4 linked regions of the Homo sapiens genome follow. The protein of the gene in region 1 purifies or fractionates together with the protein of each later gene. This does not show direct contact. Each region holds a gene or a part of one and is shown in the gene's direction. Other genes may lie near its edges. The genes, in order: ROR2, ZDHHC6, HMGA2 and MYO1B.

Region 1 (5,728 bases):
CTTCACGAGCTGCTGACAGCAGTGGCTTTGAACTCAGGCCTCTGGTTTCCCAGTACGAGGTTATTCCACTGTGGCCAGGCTGTCTTGGGAGAGTCCCCTCTGAACTGCCCACACTCTCCCATCGTGTACCCAGAGGAGTGCTCATTCCATTGCCGGTGTTTGAGATGAGCAGTGACTGTCCGGGTTTCCTGCATTTCCTCCTCAGACATATTGGAGAGCAGTGCTTCACTTTGAGATGTTCTGAACAATAGCATGAACACTATATGGTTGGTAAAGTGTGCAGTGTTGGCTGATTTCTGTTTCCCTGGGCCTTGTACCCATTACCCACCCATGATGTGCTGCAACACCACGTTGGGAGGCTGGGCAGGGCAGCGACCTGTCTCAGCAGACATCAGCAGCTTGCTTGCAGAGGGCAGATTTTTTTCCCCCCCCAAATAGACAGGCCTGGCTTTTCACCCAGACTGGAGTGCAGTGGCACGATCACAGCTTACTGTAGTCTTGTACTCCTGGGCTCAGGCCATCCTCCCCCTTCAGCCTCCCAAGTAGCTGGGACTGCAGGTGCGTGCCACCACACACCCGGATAATTTTTTCTTATTTTTTGTAGAGATGGGGTCTCACTATGCTGTCCAGACTGGTGACAAACTCTTGCCTCGAGCAATCCTCCTGTCTCGCCCTCCCAAATCACTGGGATTGTAGGTGTGTGCCACCACACCTGACCTAGAGGGAAGATATTTGGGAAGATTCTGTGCTGAGCAATAGTGATGGAGCATTTTTCCTTAATAGTCCTTCAGACACAGAGTAAGGAAAGAAGAAATTGCATCATGAGCACAATTATGGGGCTTTGGAAAAAGGCATATAAGTCATTTCAAAAGTTGAACTATTGTTCTCTCTTATTTTATATTTATGTCTTTTATTTTAGTTATTTTATTTTTTGAGACAGAGTCTCGCCCTGTCACCCAGGCTGGAGTGCAGTGGTGCAGTCTCCGCTCACTGCAACCTCTGCCTGCCAAGTTCAGGCAATTCTCCTGTCTGAGCCTCGAGTAGCTGAAATTACAGATGCGCACCACCATGCCCGGCTAATGTTTGTATTTTTAGTAGAGACGGGGTTTCACCATGTTGGCCAGACTGGTCTCGAACTCCTGACCTCAAGTGATCCGTCCACCTTGGCCTCCCAAAGTGCTGAGATTACAGGCATGAGCCACTGCACCCGGCCTATATTTATGTATTTTATAAATAAAACTTTTATAGTTCATTTATATATAGTTACATAAATATATTATGTAACTATATAATATATTGTAAATACATAACATATAATTACAGAGCTATAATTATACAAATATTAAACATTCATATATTTATATACAAATTGTAAATATATATATTTATATAAATTATTTCACAATATTTTTACATTGACTTTCTTCTCACTTTAAGTTATGGATTTAATCCACACATTGATGTAAATGACTGGGGCAGTTTCGGAAAGTCCCGCCTGACCTCCCATCCTTCCAGGCCTCCTGCCTCCCTTGTCATAAAGGTAAATCATCCAGGGAGTTTGTAGGCACTCAGTACATACATACATCTACCTAAGGAAATACAAAACAATCAACTTGAAAAAAGGTCTAAAAGCACATAAATTACTCAGTATTATTGAGGCAATGAAGAAATATGCTTACCTATACACTATTGATGAGAAATTTCTGGAGTGCTATTTGACAATAAACACAAAAATATTTTTAAAAAGAAATACCTCTTATCAGTTTTATATACTTTTTTACATAAATGATGCTATACTTGACATGTTTAGTTAACAGTATTCACAGAAATCTTTCCATCTCAGTGTATTTGAGGTTTCCAGATGCTCTCTTTCCCTGTTTCTGGACTCATGTGCAGAGCATGTGACTGTTCCATTGTGACAGGCATTCCCATCAGGGAAGCCTCATCCCAGCCACTCGTGCCACCGCGTCTCCCTTCCCTGGCCCTGAGACCTGTGGCTGGGTTTCTCTAGGAGAGATTCTGAAGAGGAAAAACTAAAGGGGCACAGGCATCCCCTTTTTAAAACTGATACTGCCAAATGGTCATTCGTAGGTTACTTTCCCGACAACGTCAAAGGACCCATTTCTCCTTATCTTCCATAAGATGACTTCCAAACTTGTTAACTTCTGCCACTCTGAAGGATGAAAAATGAATAAATGACCTGCTTTGTTCTCCATTTCCCTGGTTACTAGTGAGGCTGAGCATGTGGACACACATTGCTTGGCACTCATGTCTCCTCTTTGTCAATTGCCACTTCATATTCTTCGCTCATTTTTCCTTTACATTGTTTCTTAATGAATTTTGATAATTCTTTATGTCTTATTTCTTGATCATATAGAAATTAAAACTTTTACAAATTAATAATTTGTTTTTCATGTTATGTCTTGTTAAAGAATGTCATGATTTCCTTGAAAGATTCTGATGGTAGTTTGATTGGAATTACAATGAATTTTTAGGTCAGTTTGGTGAGAATTAATATCTAAATTGAATTTTCTTATCAAGGACTACTTTCCTTTGTGTTTTGAGGTGTTTTCTTTTTCTTAACATTTTATAATGAAAAATTTCAAACATACGGTTGAAAGAATTTTATAGTGGGCTCCTGTATACTCACCAGCTAGATGCTAGCATTTACATTTTACTGTGCTAACTTTATCACTTATCGTTCCATCCAGCCTCCATCTGTCCATCAATCCATCTGATTTTTCATTCATTTCACTGAGTTGCAGATACTTGTACATTTACCCTGAAATACTTCAGCATATATATCATTAATGAGAGTTCAGTATCTGTTTATGATTCTTGCTCCTCCTTCTTCAGTTAAAATTTGCATACCAGTGAAATGCACACATCTTAAGTATAGCACTATAAGGTCTGACAAATGCATAAATCTCTGCAATCGAAACACCCTATCCAGATACAGAATCTCTGTCACGCTTGCAGGCTCTGTCGTGCAACTTCCTAGTCAACTCCCTTCTACCCCAGGCACCCACTATTCTGATTTTTTAAGTAATGGACTAGTTTTTCCTGTTATTAAACATCACAGAAATGAAATCCTTCAGGATGTAGCCACTTAAGCCTGGCGTCCTTTTAGCATAGTGCTTTTGAGATTCATCTGTGTTGTACATGTATCAGTAGGTTACAGCTGTTTATTGCTGAATAGCATTTTATGGTATGAACATACGCGTTGATTTATCCATTCTCCTGTTGAAGGACACCTAAGCAGATTCCAGGCTTGACTACTATGAATAAAGTTCCTTGTATAGGAATACTCTATACTTTTTGTGGACATGCATTTTCATTTCTGTTAGTGTTAACTAGGCGTAGAATTGCTGCATTATAGGGCATGTGTGTGCTTAATTTTATAAGACATTCCTGGGCCTTCTCCTGAACTCTTTTTACCTCCACCCACAGTGTGGGAGACTTGTGATGACTCCACATATTTCCCAACATTGGTGTGGTCAGCCTTTTTAAGTGTAGCTATTCCGGTGTATGCAGTGATTCAAGTGATTTTTTATATCATTCCAGCCTCTTGAAAAAGCAATTTTTACTAGTCATTTTTAAATTTTCAAATAAATGTATTTAAAGCTGTAAAGTTTCCTCTGAATACCATCTCCCTGCTTCCACCACGCATTTAGGCTTCTGTTGTTTGATACTGTTTTCTGATTTTTGTTGCATTATTATTAGTGAATATGGGCTGTTTATGTTTTATTCTTGATAATTTATTGAGATTTTTCTTTGTAACCAGTTAGATACGGTCCATTTTTGTGAATCTTGCCTGTTGTTTCAAAAATACGTGTGCTTTGATGTATCTGCACATTTCTTGACTCATCTGTGAGATTGAGTATTAAGTATGTTATTAAAAATATCTATATATTTTTTATCCACATGAGTACCAGATACCTGAAGATTTGTGAAAGTCACCCACACTCAATCTGGATTTGCTAGTTTCTATTAGTTCTCTATTTTTAATATTTTGTGTGTATTTTAAGGTTATATAGGTTTTTGTGGGGTTTTTTGGTTTCTTTTTACAGTCCCTTTTAGTGCTTTTTGCCTTGAATTCAGTTTTGCCTAACAATAATAGAGTTCCACATGCTTTTTAAATTTGCATTTGCCAGGAACCGTTTTTATGATTCCTGTCCCACTCTTTAGTCTTTCACCTTTTTGTGTTCTGTTTTATGTAGGTCTCTTGTAAATGATGCATAACTAGACTTTTTTTGGGAGGTTGATGTGGAGACCTTTCCAGTCTGAAAGTCCATGTTAATACATAGTTAAATTCATTTTAACTAATATACAGTATTCCATTCTGTGAGTCAGTTTCCACTTGAATCATGCATTGACTGCCGAGTGAAGGTTAGTTCTTTTCACTGATAGGGACCCTCTTATAGTGACTGTGCATCCCAAGTCTCTTTGTCCCTATGGGTGAAAGTCCTCCAGGGACAGAGATCAGGAAGCAGGATTACGGGTGTGCATCTCCCACCTCTCCCAGGAATGGCCAGATTGCCCTCTATGATGGCCAAGTCATTCATAGCCTCACCTGCAACACATGAGTTATTATTTCCTCATGTTTTCTAGCACATGGTATTATCAGAACTTAAAATGTTGCCAGCATCTTAGGTGTCAAATAGTAATTTTACATTACATTTCACCAGTAAATAGTGAGGTTGAACATCATTTTGTCGTTCTAAAAGCCATTGCATTGCCTGTGTGTATCCAGCCTATCCTCATTATTTTCAGATTCCATATTTGCAAATTTGCTTATTCACTAAACTTCGTGTCCCCCAAATCAACACTCGTGGTATTTTCATGGTCATTCTTGGACATGCACAGAGTGGAGAAAAACCTGAGCTCCCTGACACATGTTTCCAGCTGAGACTGAACCAAACTACACTGCCTTCTTGTTCTAGTCCTCATACTGTGAGCACATATCCTTTCTGTCTACTTAGTGTCACGTTTTTCCTATTTGTGTGCTTTCTGTTGGTGATTCTGCTGTTGTAAATGGCTCCCAGGCGTGGCGCTGAAGTGCCATCTGGTGTCCCAAGTGCAGGGAGCTGTGATGTGCCTTACGGAGAAGATGTGTTGTTAGAGGCTGTGCGTTTTCCACGAATCAATAATATACATCAAATAAGATGTCTTTAACCAAAAATGTACATAAAACAAGATGTGTATTGATTGGTTGAAGCAAATGTTTTAACCAGAGGCTCTCAGAAAACTAACTGTATTTTCCCTGGGAACAGTGGCTCAATATTCACTAATTCAGTGTTTGTCGTGACATTATAGAAAATAACTATGGTAGATAACTAAAATAGCCTGCACTTTGTCCATGTTTCTGTTAGGATATGTGTTTTTCGGCCGGGTGCAGCGGCTCATGCCTGTAATACCAACACTTTGGGAGGCCAAGGCGGGTGGATCACCTGAGGTCACGAGTTCAAGACCAGCCTGGCCAACATCGTGAAACCCCATCTCTACTAAAAATATAAAAATTAGCTGGGCATGGTGGCACATGCCTGTAATTCCAGCTACTTGGGAGGCGGAGACAGGAGAATTGCTTGAACCTGGGAGGCGGAGGTTGCAGTGAGCCAAGATCACGCCACTTCACTCCAGCCTGGGCGACAGAACAATACTTAGTCTCAAAAAAAAGAAAGAATATGTGTTTTTCTTGCTTTATAAGAGTTTCAAAATAATTTCTAGG
Region 2 (5,728 bases), on another chromosome or scaffold:
GTTGGCACCTAATTCTGAATGTTGAAACATTATGCAGGCCAGGCAGCACACATCTGTGGCCATATTTGGCCTGCATTTTATCAGTTCTTCATCACCATTTGTAAAACATGAGGGAAGAAACAACTGAATCCTAGGCAGCACTTGTCACTGTGGAAGAATACTGCGATGTAGAATAGCAAGAGAAGAGAAAAGACATAGTTCTGGTTTAGATTAGTGTCTAGTGTTGTTTATGTATGTTAATGTTGGTAAGGTCTCCTTGACACTTTCTGAGGAAACAACAACAACAAAAAGTAACATTTGAGAAAACTAAGAATGATATCCTGCACATCGGTCCGAGCTCATTACTATATTAATTAAAAATAGCTGGCCCAGCTCAGTGGCTCACGCCTGTAATCCTAGCACTTTGGGAGGCTGAGGCGGTGTGGGTCACAAGGTCAGGAGTTCAAGACCAGCCTGGCCAATCTGGTGACACCTGTCTCTACTAAAAATATAAAAAATAAGCCGGGTGTGATGGCACATGCCTGTAGTCCCAGCTACTCGGGAGGCTGAGGCAGGAGAATTGCTTGAACCTGGGAGGTGGAGGTTGCAGTGAGTCGAGATCGTGCCACTGCACTCCAGCCTGGGCGACAGAGTGAGACTCCGTCTCAAATAAATAAATAATAAATAAATAAAATAAAATAAAAATAGCTGTGTTTGCGTTGGCCACAGGGCCACGTTGTTATCTCTTTGATCAAGTTGTTTTACGTGTCACAGTAGAGTCTGACCAGTTACCATAACCAAACATTTTGTGCGTGTGCTATTGTTGCTGCGATAGCTCTCCTTTGGGTGGAACACAGTGAAGATCGACATGAGTGCAGCCCGGAGAGATCCTCTTCCAATTGTTCCATTTGGATTAGCTGCATTTGCTACCACCTTGTTTGCCTTGGGATTAGCTTTAGGAACAACCATAGCTGTTGGGATGTTGTTTTTTATCCAGGTAAGCATCTCAATTACCTCAAGTCAAAAGTGTCAAGTTGTTGGGACTGATTGCACAAGAAAGAGACAAAGCCTGTATTTAAGTGTCCAGTATGAAATGGAAATTATTTTTGCTTATTTCATTTAGGTAACTAATCTCCTTTGTATTCGTCAGATAATTTTGATTTAATTTTGCCAGAATTTCTAGGTATTGATTTAGTTTTTAAAATGCTAACTTCAAGTTAGGTAAGTTCTGGAGCACTTCAGAATTGAGAGAGCTCTTCTCACCTGTACAGTCTCTCTTGCTCTTCACATCCACCCCAATAGAGGAGTCTTACTGTTTTCCCTTCCCAACACGTGATTAATTCATTGATTCTCAAAAAGGTTAAGTGACTTACCCAATGTCACCCATTCATGTACTTGGTAAACATTTTCCCTTCCCGACAGATGATTAATTCATTGATTCTCAAAAAGGTTAAGTGACTTACCCAATGTCACCCATTCATGTACTTGGTAAACACTAATGTTATTTTATAATAGTATATATTTAATAATAGTAATCATAATATAGCTAACATTTATTGAGCACTTATTATGTGTAAGGCACTGTTTTAGGCACTTTACATGTATTAGCTCATTTAATCTCCATAACAGCCCTATGATAAAGATGCTATTTAAAGCCTACTCTGATGAATCACTTTGCTAATTTCTAAGGCTGCATAAATGATAATGAAGAGGTAGCTGCCCTTAGGAACTGACAGTTAATATTAAACAGTTAACTAATACAGGGCCATATGTACATCATAGATTTATGTGCACAGTGCTATGAGAACACAGAGGAGGAGGACCTGGCTCTGAAGGGACCAAAAACCATTCTTTTTCATTCTTTTTTTTTTTTTTTTTTTTTTTTTTTTTTTTTTTTTTTTTAGACGGAGTCTCACTCTGTCACCCAGGCTAGAGAACAATGGCGTGAACTCAGCTCACTGCAACCTCCGCCTTCCGGGTTTAAGCAGTTCTCTGCCTCAGCCTGCCAAGTAGCTGGGATTACAGGTACCTGCCACCACACCCGGTTAATTTTTGTGTTTTTAGTGGAGACGGGGTTTCACCATCTTGGCCAGGCTGGTCTTGAACTCCTGACCTTGTGATCCACCCACCTCAGCCTCCCAAAGTGCTGGGATTACAGGTGTGAGCCACTGTGCCCGGCCCAAAAACCATTCTTATGACTTATTGCATTCACGTAATTCATTCATTCATTCATTGAAGGCCTACTGTGGGCCAGGTATTATGCTAGGCCCTTGGAATATGATGAGGACTCCTGGGCCAAGGCTGTTTATTTTTTTATTGTTGTTTGTTTGTTTGTTTGTTTGTGACAGAGCCTGGCTCTGTTGGCCCAGGCTGGAGTGCAATGGCACGATCTCGGCTTATTGCAGCCTCCACCAAGGCTGTTTCTAACATACTACACTGTCTCTCTGAAGGCACAGCCAGACTTTAAGGGAACTCTTGGTTTTAAAATAATCTGGTTTTGTTTATACTTTATTATCGTCTACTAGCCTGGGACCAAATTCTTTGAAAAATTTTCCCCAATGCCTCTAATTTAGAATCATATTAGAAATAAACTAAGATCCTATAATATAAAAGCCTATATATGTGGAATCAGTCATATCTAGGAAAATCAAATAATAGAATAAAGACTGAATACATTCATTATTTTTAAGGCAAGTGAAATATTGAGGTTGACTGAAATGAGTCACTGTTACTTCTCATAAATAGATTAATCGTAAATTTAAAGTTAGTTAAAAATAGTGATAAAAGATTTTAATAGCAAATTATAAGTAAGCACTGATTAAATGGATTATATCAATGTTTTATTAAACCTTGCTCTGAAAATAGTACTTATGACATAAAGTTTGATTAACATACTAGATTCAGATTTGATTATGGATGGGTGTAATCATTGTTACGGAGAGGTACCGTGGTGCAGTAGTTAAGAACAAGGACTTTGGAGTCAGACGGATGACATGGTAATTGTGGTACTTAACCTCTGTTATCCTTGGTATCTTTGTCTATGGAATGGAGTAATAAAAGCTATCTCAGAGAATTATGAATATGATAATCTTAAAGGAACCAAGGTCGCATTATTAAATTTTACTATCATTTAATTTCCAGATGAAAATAATTCTCAGAAACAAAACTTCTATTGAGTCATGGATTGAAGAGAAGGTAAATTTTAATAATTGTTTCTTCAATATTAAAAAAGTATATTAATAAAGGACTGGTAAAGTCCTGAATATTAATAAAGTCTGTTATTAGACCGGATTAACGAAAAGTGCCTAAAAGTGAAAACATGGCTGCCAAATGGCTACCGTAAGTCATTTGCATGCCACATAAAAGGTGAATATAGGAAACATTTTTGTTCATTCTGTAACTCCCACAGAAAGGTGCTTCTCATACACCCTGAGTGGTCGCAGAGGCCTAAGCCACACGTCAAACCATCTGTTTGTTGTCTCTTAGACTAGAGGAGAAAGCAGCCCATTTGGAAAGGAGCTTCCACCCTACCAAACTGCCATCAGGTTTTTCTCAGTGTTTTAGACATTCAATGAAGCTCCTAACATTTTGCTTGTCACAGACCTCACAATGTCCAATACTTCATACTGTCCATTGTGATTCTAGCATGAAACACAAATCTGACTACCCTGCTCTGTGTTTAAAACTTCTCAGAGCCTCACCATTCCTGTGGCAGGGGTTGAAACCCAAATACCTGCAGGGTCTGGGCAGATAACGTCCATGAAGGGGAGCAAGCCTGTATACCAAAGAATTGCCTGGCAGACCAAGCTGATTGTTGCCACAGGGGAATATTCACAATTTCCAAATTACAAAATAGGGAGAAGAATAGCATCGTTTTATATCTTTACAAATCTCTTTAGTATCTTTGACTTAAGAGAAGATGGTTGGATTCTCACTTCTGCATTCAGTCTGTTGAGATATGTTGCTTCGATTGAAGTATGTGAAGATCTAGCCTCACACAGATAAGTAGGTAGAAAAGGATAGAATATTTTAATAGGCCTTTTACATGATAATAGTGGATGTTCTTCCGTATTACATTGAAAACTTGACAAGTGATATTTCTTATCAATAAGATTTTTATACCTTTTTATTTTAAAACTCATCAGTCTATCTTGCTCTTTGAATTAATCTTTTACCAGTATGTGGTTTTATGTAACATCAGGCATCGGTCATTTGGCAAATACTAGTTTACTGTGTTATGTAGATTTTGCAAACGTTAAACACCTTTCATTATACAATATCCCAAAATTGCATTCACGTATATCAATATATCATTTTTATGAGAAAAAATCCTTAAGTATTGGAAAGCTGTCAGGCTCACAGTGGTAGATACAAGGTTTTTTTTTTTGTAATTCTAGTATACATTTGAAAGCCTTAATTTTTTACTATTAACCCATACTGTCAGTCATTTCCCTTGAAGTGACTGCCTGACTGTTCGTTTTTGAGAAAATGTTCACCAAGTCCTGAAGTCTGAATAACCTTAGTTTGCTATATTACTCATTCTTTCAAATAAGAATAGTGTTACATTAAAAAAGCTGGCTCTACAGCTTTTGTTAGCTTACAGCTTAACAACTATTTTCCTTGAGATGATCATTCTACTTGGGCACGCTTTATGTATACTTCTCATTTTGTCACACAGACTGTTAAAAATAAAGGACATCTCCTTGAGAGTTGAGATTTAATATTTAAAAACAATTTTTACTGCTTCATCAAGGACATTCTTACATGGAATTGCTCATAATGACTACCAACACAGTTTGGTGCCACTGCCTTGGTTTTTGCTAAGATGCCAACAGTTTTATTCACCATTGCAAATGTCAATGCAACAAAAAGACAAATAACATTTCAGTATTATTATGAAAATAGCTTGGCCTTGCTGACCAGCAAGAAAAAGTCCTGAATACTCAAAGTGATCTATAAAGCATGCTTTGAGAACCACTGATGTACAGGTTGAAGTCTGAGCTTCTTAGCTTCTACATAAGTAAGACCTTTTATGACTTCTTTTTTTGTTTTCTGGCGACGGAGTCTCGCTCTGTTGCCCAGGCTGGAGTGCAGTGGCACAATCTTGGCTCGCTGCAACCTCCACTTCCTGGGTTCAAGTGATTCTCCTGCCTTAGCCTCCCAAGTAGCTGGGATTACAAGGTGTATGCCACCATGCCCAGCTAAGTTTTGTATTTTTAGTAGAGACAGGCTTTCACCATGTTGGCCAGGCTGGTCTCAAACTCCTCACCTCAAGTAATCCACCCGCCTTGGCCTCCCAAAGTGCTGGGATTACAGGCGTGAGCCACTGCACCTGGCGGACTTCTTTTTATCTACTTCTCCAGCCTAATTTCCTACCCTTCTCTACCCTGTCTCACACTTGATACTAAATTACTCATAGTTTGTACATCTTATGCTTCTGTATCCTTGCACATGTTGTTCCCTCTGCCTAGAATGCTCTTCCCTCTCTTTTTGCCTGATTTCTTGCTTCTCAAGACTTAGTTAAGGTATTGTTTCTCCCAAGGACCCTTCCTGGATACTCCCTAGACTTGGCTAAGTACTTTTTGTTTCCTTTGTTCCCTTTTCCCATAGCATCTACCACACCCCTTCATCACCTTTTAACACACAATATTGATAGAATCCTAACTTCATTGAGTGTTTCTGTTAGGCAAAGACATGTCTTAGTCATTTTATAAATTCTCTTATATTTACCAGTTTTTCTTTGTAAATA
Region 3 (5,728 bases), on another chromosome or scaffold:
CTGTGATCTTCTCAGGGCACCTCCCTCTCCATGAGGCAATGCTCTGAAGAGGGTATTATTTACTTGACACTCTGGGCTTTCGCTAAATTCATGCCCTTGGGACTGAAGGTAAGACAATGCCACTAACCTCTGACAACAAATGATTCCTTTGTGGAGCCATTCAAAAGTGATAATAAACAATGATTCAGAGTGTCCAAATCAGATGGTTAGATAGAACCCCTAAAGGCTACCAGGTTTTCTTTTGTCCTGGGAAATTAACTGAATCAGTGACAATTTTAGTTTCCTAAAGTATTTTTTTATGGTAGCAAATGCTTGTATACTACCGGGTAGTAGCATTGTTAAGAGGCTAGGAGCACAGTCTTTACAGTTAGACAAAACTGGGTTCAAATCCCAGGTCTGCCACTTACCTGCTTTGTTTGTGACCTTGAGCCAGTTGTATACCTAACCTATCTAAGACTTAGTTGTTCATCTACAAAATAAGAGGAATAATAATACCCACTTTATAAGGCTGCTGTAAGGATTAACGTAACACATGTGACTGACAATCGAGTGCCTGGGATATTTTAAATGCTCAATATTTGTGAGTTAACATTACAGTCATATAGAGTTTGCGTTAATTCATGGGACCTGTTGGATAGTAATGCCAGATCAGGGAGATACTATTTGGTGAGAAATGTTGTGGCTTATTTTATCTCTCATCTACCTGTCTGTCTATCTGCCTATCCATCTATCTGTTTGTCAACTATCATGTAAAGCTATTTGTTTTTACCAGGCAGATTGAAGAGAAAAAGAGGAAAGTTTCATTTGGCAGTGTAGACAGTCAATATCACTGTACCAAGTACCCCCACCGGCTGCTAACTCAGATAACAAAAGTAAAATGTGGAACAAGGTATCCTGGTTCAAGTTACCTGTATTTGTGTGTTAATATAGCCATGGATGATTCTTATACATGAAACAATATGTACTAAGTTTTCTTTATCCTAAAAAGCAGGAACACGTTTTTATAGATGTATGTGATATGTGTGTGTATTGGTGTGTTGTTGTGTATGAAGATTGGACTAGGGCTGACAAAAACGGAAAAACTAATTGCTTTATAAATAATGTTAACAACTGTGATATCAGAAAAATCTTCTGTGAAGTAAAGCAATGAAATAAACTCTCAAGATAGAAATGTATTCATGTTAAGTGTGGGATTATGGTTAATAAAGTACATTTTTAATTAATCATTATTTCTAGGCACATATAGTTTTAATCACTGGGACAAACTGATGATTTCTGCCTGCTTTTTTTTCCTCTGCTTTAGGTGAACTGATTGACAGGTGATTGTTTCAGGCAAGGAACATTAAATTAAACATGTAGAAGTGTGCAAATATTTGTTATTTTGAATTAGAATGCTTGTGTATTCTTTTTCACATTTATACTTGCTTTTGACTACCAATATAGGTAGAAGAGCTTTGTAAATTGTAAAGTAATATGTCAATATTAATTTTTGCAACTTTAGTTGTGACATGGAAAGAATCTTGATCATCTTAAGAAATATTAATTTTCTAAAATACTAACTTATGTAGTTACAGAATGTGGGGATAATGTTTTTAATATGGACAGAAATAAAAGCAAAATAGCTTTTGAAAAAGCATTTTCATGTATTTCAGAAGAGATCACTACAGGGGGTGTCTTTTAGGGCGAGGGGTTGCATAGATACCTCTTTACATCATGCAATGAAGAAGAATCTACTCAGAAATGTGGAAAAAGATTAACCTTAGAGGAGACGAAGTTTGTTAAAAAAAACAAAAAAAAAAAAACCGATACGTCATCTGCAAAGCAGAACATTCTTACTTCAAATGTGTCCCTTGGTGCAGTACTTATAAACAATGTCAGGTAGAAAACTATAATGACTTCCTTTTTCATTTGCAGAAAGCAGAAGCCACTGGAGAAAAACGGCCAAGAGGCAGACCTAGGAAATGGGTGAGTAATAAGATATAATTTTTCTTCTTTTTTTTAAAGAAAAATTTCTGTTGTATTAAATGAGAAAAGTTTTATTTCGTCGATTACATGAATTTCCAACTTCTGGTTTGATGAATCTTTGAAAGGGTTAAGTCAAGAGACAAATTATCATCACTTCCTACCACTAGGCTCCAGGTGTTTACGTAGAACACTTTTCTTTCCTGAAGGTGGACTCATTTTTCTATCTCTTATCAACATCAAAAGAGGCTCCACTCTTCCTTCAAATAGGGTAACAATGAGATGATTTGTTCAGTAGATTGAGTAACTAAAGTTAAAGGGTATTATGAAGCCTTGGAAGTTGATTACAAATGGTGTTAAAATTCATACACAATGTGTATGTGATAACTTTTTAACGTTTTTCTTTTTTCTTTTTCTTTCTTTTTCTTTTTCTTTTTTTTTTTTGGTTTTCTCCATGGCTTTTGTTTGGACACATCTCATTTTCTAGATGGTTTGTGTTTTCTTTTTCACATGGCTTTGTTAGGAAGCAAGGGTTTATTTTGAGTTTTTCTTGCTTCCCTTAGTAGTCATTCTCCACATGCAAACATTAGAGATAGCTGTATCCATACAAGTGCACCTGATCCTATAGGCACACAGATCCTGTATCTTTTGAGGCCAGAAATTCAGTGGTCACTGAAGAGCTTTGCTAATTTTACTGCTTGAACTTTGTTCCCTTGTTTGCTGTGTTACCCATGTTCTTCTGGTCTGTCTTTCCCACTGACGGAGAAAAGAAGTCCTAAAAATGAATGAAATCGTTTCTCAAGAAGGATGAGGGCATCCTTTATACCCAGTGTTGCATATGATGGGTTCTTTGGCTTTGCTTTTTCCTCTTCCTCAATTCTTTCTTCATGCTTCAAATTTTAAAAAGATTTTTTTTTTCTGTTATGCTGGATTATATGTTCCTGTTTGCCATTCCTTTCTCCTCTAGAGTTCTGCATCACTTTCTATTTATACTTTGGTATTGCCTTTCTTTTAATTTATTCATCTTATATTTTTCCTCTGCTCAACATGTGTTGGGATTAGATTTCTTAGCATAAGGAAATGGGATGATCTTTAGATGAAAAACATCTCAGTGTTAAAATGTGACCTTAAAGTAAGGATATTTCATTCAACCTTCTGTTCATTAAATTAGTTCTCTCCAAACCTACTTATCAAGTGGTGATCATCTAGCGTGCTTGATTACCTTTAAAGTTAGGGAACTTGCTACCTCTCAAGGCTGCCTCTTTCTTCTAGGAAAGCTCTGCACATTAGAAAATTGTTCCATCTGACTACCTGTAACTTCCGTCCACTGTCTCTAGGTCATCCTTCTGGGAATATATAGAGTAATTGTTTTCACTTTCACTCATGATAGCCCTGCAAACGGTTGAGGGCAATTAACACATACTGTTTGTATGTATCTGTGTTTGTATGTAACACATACTCCAGTTTTCTCATTTTTTCCCCATAAAGGAACATTCTTGTTATTCTTTTCTGAACATGTTTGTTCGTTAATCTTTTGAAAGATGTCACCTAGAACTAAATATCATATTTCAAGTGTGGGTTCCATAAACAGTGGGTTTATCACCTTCCTTGTTGTACATATGGTTCCAGTTATCGATTGCTGCATAGTTAACCACTCTAAAACTTAATAGTGTAAAAAAACTATTTTATTATGCATATGGATTCTTTGGGTCAAGGATAGGCAGGGTAGAGCAGAAAGTCTTGTCTCTGCTCCATGATGTCTGGGGCCTCCACTGGGAAGACTCAAGCATCAGGGGATGACTTTAATACTTGGGATCCAGAATCTGGAGCTGTTTCACTTACAAATCTGGTGCTTTATCAAGATTGGCTGGAAATCTGGGCGGATCTGGGAGTGCGTGCACTGGATCACCCATACATGGCCTCCCCAGGATAATCAGGCTTCTTACATGCACTCAGGACTACCTCTGGGAATTTTCTGGTAACTGAGGAGGAAGCTGCAAGGCCTTTTTTGCCTTAGACTCGGAAGTCAAAAACTGCTGCTTCCATTATACTCTAATGAGCACATTGTTGACTAAGTTGATACTGGCATACATATCAAATAGAGATCTGCTGTTTTCTAAGCATCAGAACTCTGAAAGGACATCCCATACCATTGAACTAATTAATAAGAAAGACGTGTATAATCTTTCTAATAGGCAACATAATAGAAAATAGATGAGTTCTTTGAAGCCATGGGATTAATGTGGCTAAAATGAAATTAAATTGCAAGCGAATACAGTGGCAGTTAACCAGCAAACTAACCTCCATCATATGGGGCCTCTTAACTCTCTCAGCCTTTCATCTCCTCTGCCCTTGGGCTGTCCTATAATGGTCACCAATTCACCTCCATAGGTTAGAGTCCTGTCTTCTCCGAACCTTCCTATGGCTCCACATCTGGCCAGCTAGTTAATTACAGCCTGCCCTAGTACTTCGAAGTCATTCAGTTTACATCTACCTTTCTTTACAGTTTTCTTTCTCACCACACATCCTTAAACAGTTGATGATTCAGCCAAGCAGGAGTAAACTATAGAGCAATTAAAGGATATATATGTTTTTTTTCTTAACGGATTCTTGCTAATTTAGGGGGGATCTGGATTTCAGGCATCAGATCTTCCTGCTGGGTAAGAAGCACATGTGAGGCCCCCACCACAGAAATCCTTGCCTTTCTGAGAATAGCTGGGCCATTTTCTTTGACTCTCCTGGTTTCTAATTTTTACTGGCTGTGAGAATGGAAAATATTATGTGGTGAATTGTTACAAGTCCCTGATTTGGTCCCCAAAGAAGAGTTGTTCTACTGAGAAGAGGAAATAAAAGGAAATTGTATATTTTTTCTAGACAGTGTGTTTCCTCTTTGCTTGTATATCTTCTGTTGGGTAGAGTATGCAGCCAGTCACAGCAAGGCATTCCGTTCAATGGCATTCTTTGCTGGAAAGCTTGTGCTGAAGAAATAAATCATTGCGTTTTCCATAGGAAATGGGCTTATACTTTATAGCAAGTTCAATTCTTTCCAACAGTGTCATTCACCGATTTCCTTGAGTTAGAGATATATTTTTGAACCGACTGGATTCATTAGGTATATGGGTTAGAAGCCAAATTGTTCCCCTTTTATTCTTGTGGGATATTTTGCTTTGTTTTAAAGTTCTTGTGCTTCTAAAACTTGTTCCAGTAGATATTATAGATTCATGTAAGAGGCCTGGGAAAAGATACCTACCGAGGAATCCTCTGATCTGATGTAATTGGGATCCATATGGGTAGGTGTGGGAGAGAAACTTGCATCAGTCTTGCTTTCAGAGGGGATGAAGCATTGGCCAATTCAGTGATCTAACGAGTGTGTTAACTAGATTTGCTTAAGAACACTTCTATTGTTTACTTTAATTCCCTTCATCTTTTTTTTTTTTTATCCCCCTAGTTTGAACTGGATTTCAGATCTATTGTTTTTATGAGGTGGTCTGATTTTCATGTGTGTGCGTGTGTGTGTAGAAGAGGCTAGAGGTAAATTGGGTCTCTTTTTTTCCTGGCTTTTTATAGTTAAGAGCTCAGGCTCTGGATTCAGATGGCTTGGGTTCAAATTCTGGTCCGTCACTTAGCTAACTGGAGTCTTAAGAAAATCACATGACCTTTAAAGGTCCAGTTTCCTCATCTGCAAAAGGTATATTTCTCATAGAGTTGTAAGGATTAAATGAGATAATGCATGCAAAGGGCTTAATAAAGAGCATGGCACATAGGT
Region 4 (5,728 bases), on another chromosome or scaffold:
AATTTTATTCAGCTTTTTTTTTATACATTTTTAAATTAGGGAATAACCTTCTTAATGAACATTTCCTGTGGATGACTCTTCAGAAACTACAGGCTGGAAAATACATCTTTGAGGAAACAATTTAAAAGCCTGTTAGCATTTTTATAATTTAAAACACAGTTGAATAGGAACCAAAAAAAGTTAACTTCAAGCCAAGTCCTTTTTGGGTAGTCTTATCAGTTTTCAGGGATAGTGGCACACTCACCCCACAGCAGTGAGAGAGGTGGAATAATTTAGCCTCCCACCACCCTGCAAAGTGGCAGCTCTTATGGGAGTTGGCCTTTTATATCCTGAGAGCTGTGAAACGCTGACCACCTACGTGGATTTTTCTTCCCTTATCCTCCACCCACAACATAAGCATTTAAATTTGTATTTGCAAATTGCCAGAACTTTGTAGCTCAAAATGAAGCTTATAGATTCCTTGAAGCAGCAGTTTTTCCTTGGTGCCTTTGATGAACCTGTCCTGAAAGAGTCCCCCGACAAGTCTTTAGGGAAATTGATATCTTAGTGATAAGTGTACAGTTAACCTTTTACAAAAATTAGTTTGTTTGGGAAAAAAAAAATTGCCCTGATTCTGAATGTTTGCTTTGGTTACTTCTGTCCATTTAGAGGCATATTCTAGGAGAAGAGGCTTGATTCTCCTTTCATATACAGATGCTGCTTAACTTATGATGCAGTTACACACAGATAATCCATCATATGGGTTATGAGTGATTTCTATCTTGATTGTTCCATGTGATGAGATTATTATCAAAGTCCTGCCCACCAAATGCCATGATCACCTCAAAAATATATTTGAAATAGGTTTAAGGTTTCATTTCCAACTTATATTTAGGACAGATGCAAGCGTAATGTATAAAATAAATTGAAGTCAATTTTTATGAAGTTGTCATATGTCATATGAAGTTGAAAATATCATAAGTTGAAAATGCATTTAATACACCTAACCTACTGAACACAATCACTTAGCCTAGCCTACCTTAAACATGCTCAGCACACTTACATTAGCCTACAGTTGGGCAAAATCATCTAACACAAAGCCTGTTTTATAATAAAGTGTTGGATATCTCATGTGGTTTATTGACCACTGTACTGAAAGTGAAAAACAGAATGGTTTATGAGCACCACTGTAAAGCTGAAAAACCCTAAGTCAAACCAAGTCAGAGACCATCTGTATTGCCTACTTAGAACCACAGTTACATGTTAATATTAAGTGTTCTATAGTTTTCTTCTAAAGTGATTGCCCTGGATCTGTTCTTTCCCAGAAGGCCTATTGATTTTCTTATTCTCTGCAAGAAATGAAATTTTTCTTTAGAGCAGGTGATGGTAATGATTTCAGCTCTTTTCACTGCCACATATTGTTTGAAGGCGTTAGTAAATCCTTTGTGAGCAGCTGTTAACTTTATATTAACAGATTAGAAGAAATTGCCTTTTCCTTCACATGAGGCCATGTACTTGAGTCTTAGCTGTTGTTCTTATGAGTGATTTCTGTCTTGATTGTTCCGTGTGATAAGATTATTATCAAAGTCCTGCCCACCAAATGCCATGATCACCCCAAAAGTGTATTTGAAATAGGTTTAAGGTTTCATTTCCAACTTATATTTAGGACAGATGTAAGTGTAATATATAAAATAAATTGAAATCAATTTTTATGAAGTTGTCAGCTACTCCTTAGAATCAACTGACCTGTTTCCTTTTTTTAGTGGTACTTTCATTTGAAACTATTTCTAATGTGCAGGAATTTTTTTCCTTTAGTGTTGGGCAACCATTCCAAGGGGCTTACCTGGAAATCAACAAGAACCCCAAGTATAAGAAACTCAAAGATGCCATTGAAGAAAAGATCATCATTGCTGAAGTCGTGAACAAAATTAACCGTGCTAATGGGAAGGTAAAAATGCTAACCTTGAAGACTGATAAGAAGTACCTATTAGTTGGGATAGTCACCCTGTTTTCTGAATGTAAAAATTTGCATTTCATGTTCTCAGTAGAGTTAACTATGAAGGCGGCTATTTCCCCTTACCTTTAAGCTTAGGTGGAATTTTGCTTGTTCTCTGACATTTTTATGAAATAAAACATATTATTTATGTTCTTTACTGCGTTCTTGGTTTACATAGGTATGTTTGTTGAAGGATATTGGAATTTTTGCAAATAATGCCTTAAACTCATGGACCATTTTTGAGTATTTGTGATCATTGGTTTTATACTATTTTTTATTTTGATTTAGAGTACATCTCGGATTTTCCTCTTAACAAACAATAATCTCCTTCTTGCTGACCAAAAGTCTGGACAAATCAAGTCAGAGGTTCCATTGGTGGATGTGACCAAGGTATCAATGAGCTCACAAAATGATGGCTTCTTCGCCGTCCACCTCAAAGAGGTAAAGGTTCAACAGAAGATTTCTGTGCTTAATCTCTCAGCCATTGATTTAAAAAATTTCCATATCTGATAATCCTATCGCAGTTTATATATCTGCCTTGCTAATTTGCAAATTTTGGATATTCACCCCTATGTAAAATCTCCGACTCAGTTTTTCAGTAATTGAATAAAGTTAATCACTTTTATTGGCCAGTTTACTTTACTTTTTGAGACTAATACATAGAAATATCAAGATGTTTTAAATTTTGTTTTCTCCTGTTTTTTCTTCTATGTATCAACTTAGTAAATGTCTTAATGTTCATCTCTAATCTGGGGGTTTACATTAAAGGATACAACTAAAATAAAATAACCGCCAGTTAATTTTAACCTAAATAATTTTTAGTGTTCTGTGCCTTTAGCTTAACCAGGACTCCTGGCTTGGATGCAGTGGTTACATGTAGGTTCTGGAGTTGGTCTCACTCACTTTATGATAATTTTGGCCAAGGCATTTAATTTGTGTGTGCCTACCTACTTTTTCTCATCTTTAAAATGGGGATAGTAAGAGTGCCTACTTCATAGCATTGTTGTAAGGATTAAGGATTAAATGAGACACTGGAGGAACAGGGCCTGTCACATAACACATAGTCACTGAATAAACAAAAGTTAACAAATATTGATCATATGTAGGGACATGTGTCTAGCTAATAATGTTACTCTCTGGCCAACCCTAAACTTAGAAAAATCCCCAAAGCTTCCCTTAGCCTGTTTACCCTACTTTGGATCTTAACTTAAAGGGGGCATATCAAATACTAGGACAGTGATTCTCAACCTCAGTGACACATGTAAACAGCTTGGGAACTTTAAAAATTCTGATGCCCAGGCCATACCCCTATGAAATCAAATTAGAATTTCTCAGAGGGGGCACAAGCATCATGTTTTTTTTTTTGTTTTGTTTTGTTTTTTTTTTGAATAAACCCAGATGATTCCCTTGCACAGCTAAGGCTGAGAGCCACTGCCCTAGGATATTTGTTGGAAGTGTTGTCATTAGGGTTTTAACCAAATCACTGAAAAGTTTTTTAATCAAGTCCTTCAGAAGAGTTGCGGGATAGGTCCATGCTCCTCAAACCTGAATGTGTAAACCCATACCTGGAGGTTGCGTTGTGGTTTCATATTCACTGGGGCTGTGGTAGGGCCTGAGATTCTGCTTTTCTAGCAAGCTCCAAGTGATGCACATGGTGCTTCTGCTGCATCCACCGACTTTAGGTAGAAGGGGATTAGGTAACCTTACTAAAGTGCTCTGAGCAAGTTGGAAGAAACACTGCTTTTGTCATTATTGTTTACCTTGGGAGAATGGATTCCAGGATCTGATGTTTTAAAGAGACTGTAAGTATGTTTTTAGCCAAGCCTGTAAATATTGACCTTCTAAGGTATCTTTAATTATGACCGACTCTTGGTTTGTCCTTGCAGGGCTCAGAAGCAGCTAGTAAAGGAGACTTTCTCTTCAGCAGTGATCACCTGATTGAAATGGCCACCAAGCTCTATCGCACAACTCTCAGCCAAACCAAACAGAAGCTCAATATTGAGATTTCCGATGAGTACGTTCATGTATTGTTTGAAAACCCTTTTTCTCTTTCAGCTTTTTTGTTTTAGTTCAGCTCTCGATCTCATTCATTAATACAACTACTTATTAAGTACCAGGTATGTGTCTAGTAGTTGTTCCACATGATAAATGGGCAGTGAATGACACTGACCAAGTCTCCAACCTCATGTACCTGACATCCTAGTGGAAGAGACCAGTATGTACAAATAAAATGATGAAATAGTTGATAAGATTTTGGCTAACAAGTGTTTATGGAGGAAAAAAAGGGTTAAGAGTCAGAGAGTAGGCCAGGCGCAGTGGCTCACGCCTGTAATCCCAGCACTTTGGGAGGCCGAGGCAGGCGAATCACGAGGTCAGGAGTTCGAGACCAGCCTGGCCAACATGGTGAAACCGTCTCTACTTAAAATACAAAAAAAATTAGCTGGGCGTGGTGGCGGGCGCATGTAATCCCAGCTACTCAAGAGGCTGAGGCAGGAGAATCTCTTGAACCCGGGAGGCGGAGATTGCAATGAGCCGAGATCGTGCCACCGCAATCCAGCCTGGGTGACAGTGTGAGACTCCGTCTCAGAAAAAAAAAAAGAGTCAGGGAGGCCTCTTTGATGTGGTGACATCTGAGACTGGTATAAATTTGAAATTTGCTTCTTCAATTTCTCATTAGGGTTCTGAATATAGAAGTTAGTTATTTGCATACAGGTTGGGGCATCCCCAGATTTATTGTATCTATCTATGTAAGTGTTTTGGAGAAATCTGAGTTACTGTGTTGATTATACTTAATTGGTTACCTTTCAATAGATTGTTTACCTGCTTATATACTTCTTTGCATGTCTAGATTGCTCAGGAAATTATATTCTTTTCTAATTAAGAATTTTCTAGTCTATTCTGTTTCAACTCTTCCTAAAAGTCTTTCTAAAATAAATTTACACCCATTTCTGCCCCTTTGTAAGTCAGACTCTCTTTGATATGTTAGGATTTTGCAGTGCTGTGGGCTTTTCTTAAGTTCTCATTGAAGTGTTTAGATTTGGGTGGGAGGTTGGGCTTCATGTATACTCTATATTGGAAATTGCTGTTCGGACTAAATAACTTTTCTTGTTAATGAGATCTTTCTCATAAAGAAATTAGGAAAAAAATAATGGTTGGTGTGTTTCAGTTAAGGATTTAACACGTTAGGGCCTATTAGAGCTTTAAAATCCCTTTATAATAGTTGAAGTTTTTCATAATCTGGGAGAATGGGCTTTGGTGGGGCTGCTAATTCTCACTCACCATGGGAAGATCGTATGTATCCCAGACAGCAGAAGCTCCTCAGTGTACAGACGAAGCAGTCTCATAGTTGTCCCACTATGTGAATAAACTCATCTTTACACAGAAAGGAAATCACACCAACATCCAGACCACAAAGTACTGCTATTTTTAAGCATTTCCCAAACCGGGATTCTAGGAACATTGCTTGTACAGGATGCTAATAACGATGTACTGTGAAAAAATTGTTCTCTGATGGAAATTTAAAATCTTTCTTCACTACATTACATCTCAGAGTCCCTGAAATCTTGTTGTGATTCTCCTGAGGAGCTTTGCGGGGATAGCGTGTGGCGTGAATCCTAAACATAGTCAACCACAGAGCTCCTTCAGCAGCTCTCACAGCTTGTGTTCGAAGGTGTGCCATCTGGGAAAGGGGGACAGTTCGCTTCTGGGCAGCAAGGGCCCTGCCCTGTCACAGAGGGCGTGTGATGTTCTGGA

The links.
Region 2: the proteins of ROR2 (region 1) and ZDHHC6 purify together in Homo sapiens (affinity purification with mass spectrometry; one large-scale study listed by BioGRID and IntAct). This does not show direct contact.
Region 3: the proteins of ROR2 (region 1) and HMGA2 purify together in Homo sapiens (affinity purification with mass spectrometry; one large-scale study listed by BioGRID and IntAct). This does not show direct contact.
Region 4: the proteins of ROR2 (region 1) and MYO1B purify together in Homo sapiens (affinity purification with mass spectrometry; one large-scale study listed by BioGRID and IntAct). This does not show direct contact.

Annotation. Positions count from the first base shown.
Region 1 is NC_000009.12:91,749,860-91,755,587, reverse strand, and holds part of ROR2 (tyrosine-protein kinase transmembrane receptor ROR2 isoform 1 precursor), read left to right. Parts: intron 1-5,728. UniProt on the Homo sapiens protein: Tyrosine-protein kinase receptor which may be involved in the early formation of the chondrocytes. It seems to be required for cartilage and growth plate development. Phosphorylates YWHAB, leading to induction of osteogenesis and bone formation.
Region 2 is NC_000010.11:112,435,782-112,441,509, reverse strand, and holds part of ZDHHC6 (palmitoyltransferase ZDHHC6), read left to right. Parts: intron 1-814; coding exon 815-976; intron 977-1,857; exon of another isoform or gene 1,858-2,004; intron 2,005-3,120; coding exon 3,121-3,174; intron 3,175-5,728. UniProt on the Homo sapiens protein: Endoplasmic reticulum palmitoyl acyltransferase that mediates palmitoylation of proteins such as AMFR, CALX, ITPR1 and TFRC.
Region 3 is NC_000012.12:65,836,605-65,842,332, forward strand, and holds part of HMGA2 (high mobility group protein HMGI-C), read left to right. Parts: intron 1-1,914; coding exon 1,915-1,965; intron 1,966-5,728.
Region 4 is NC_000002.12:191,412,254-191,417,981, forward strand, and holds part of MYO1B (unconventional myosin-Ib), read left to right. Parts: intron 1-1,794; coding exon 1,795-1,927; intron 1,928-2,263; coding exon 2,264-2,416; intron 2,417-3,861; coding exon 3,862-3,989; intron 3,990-5,728. UniProt on the Homo sapiens protein: Motor protein that may participate in process critical to neuronal development and function such as cell migration, neurite outgrowth and vesicular transport.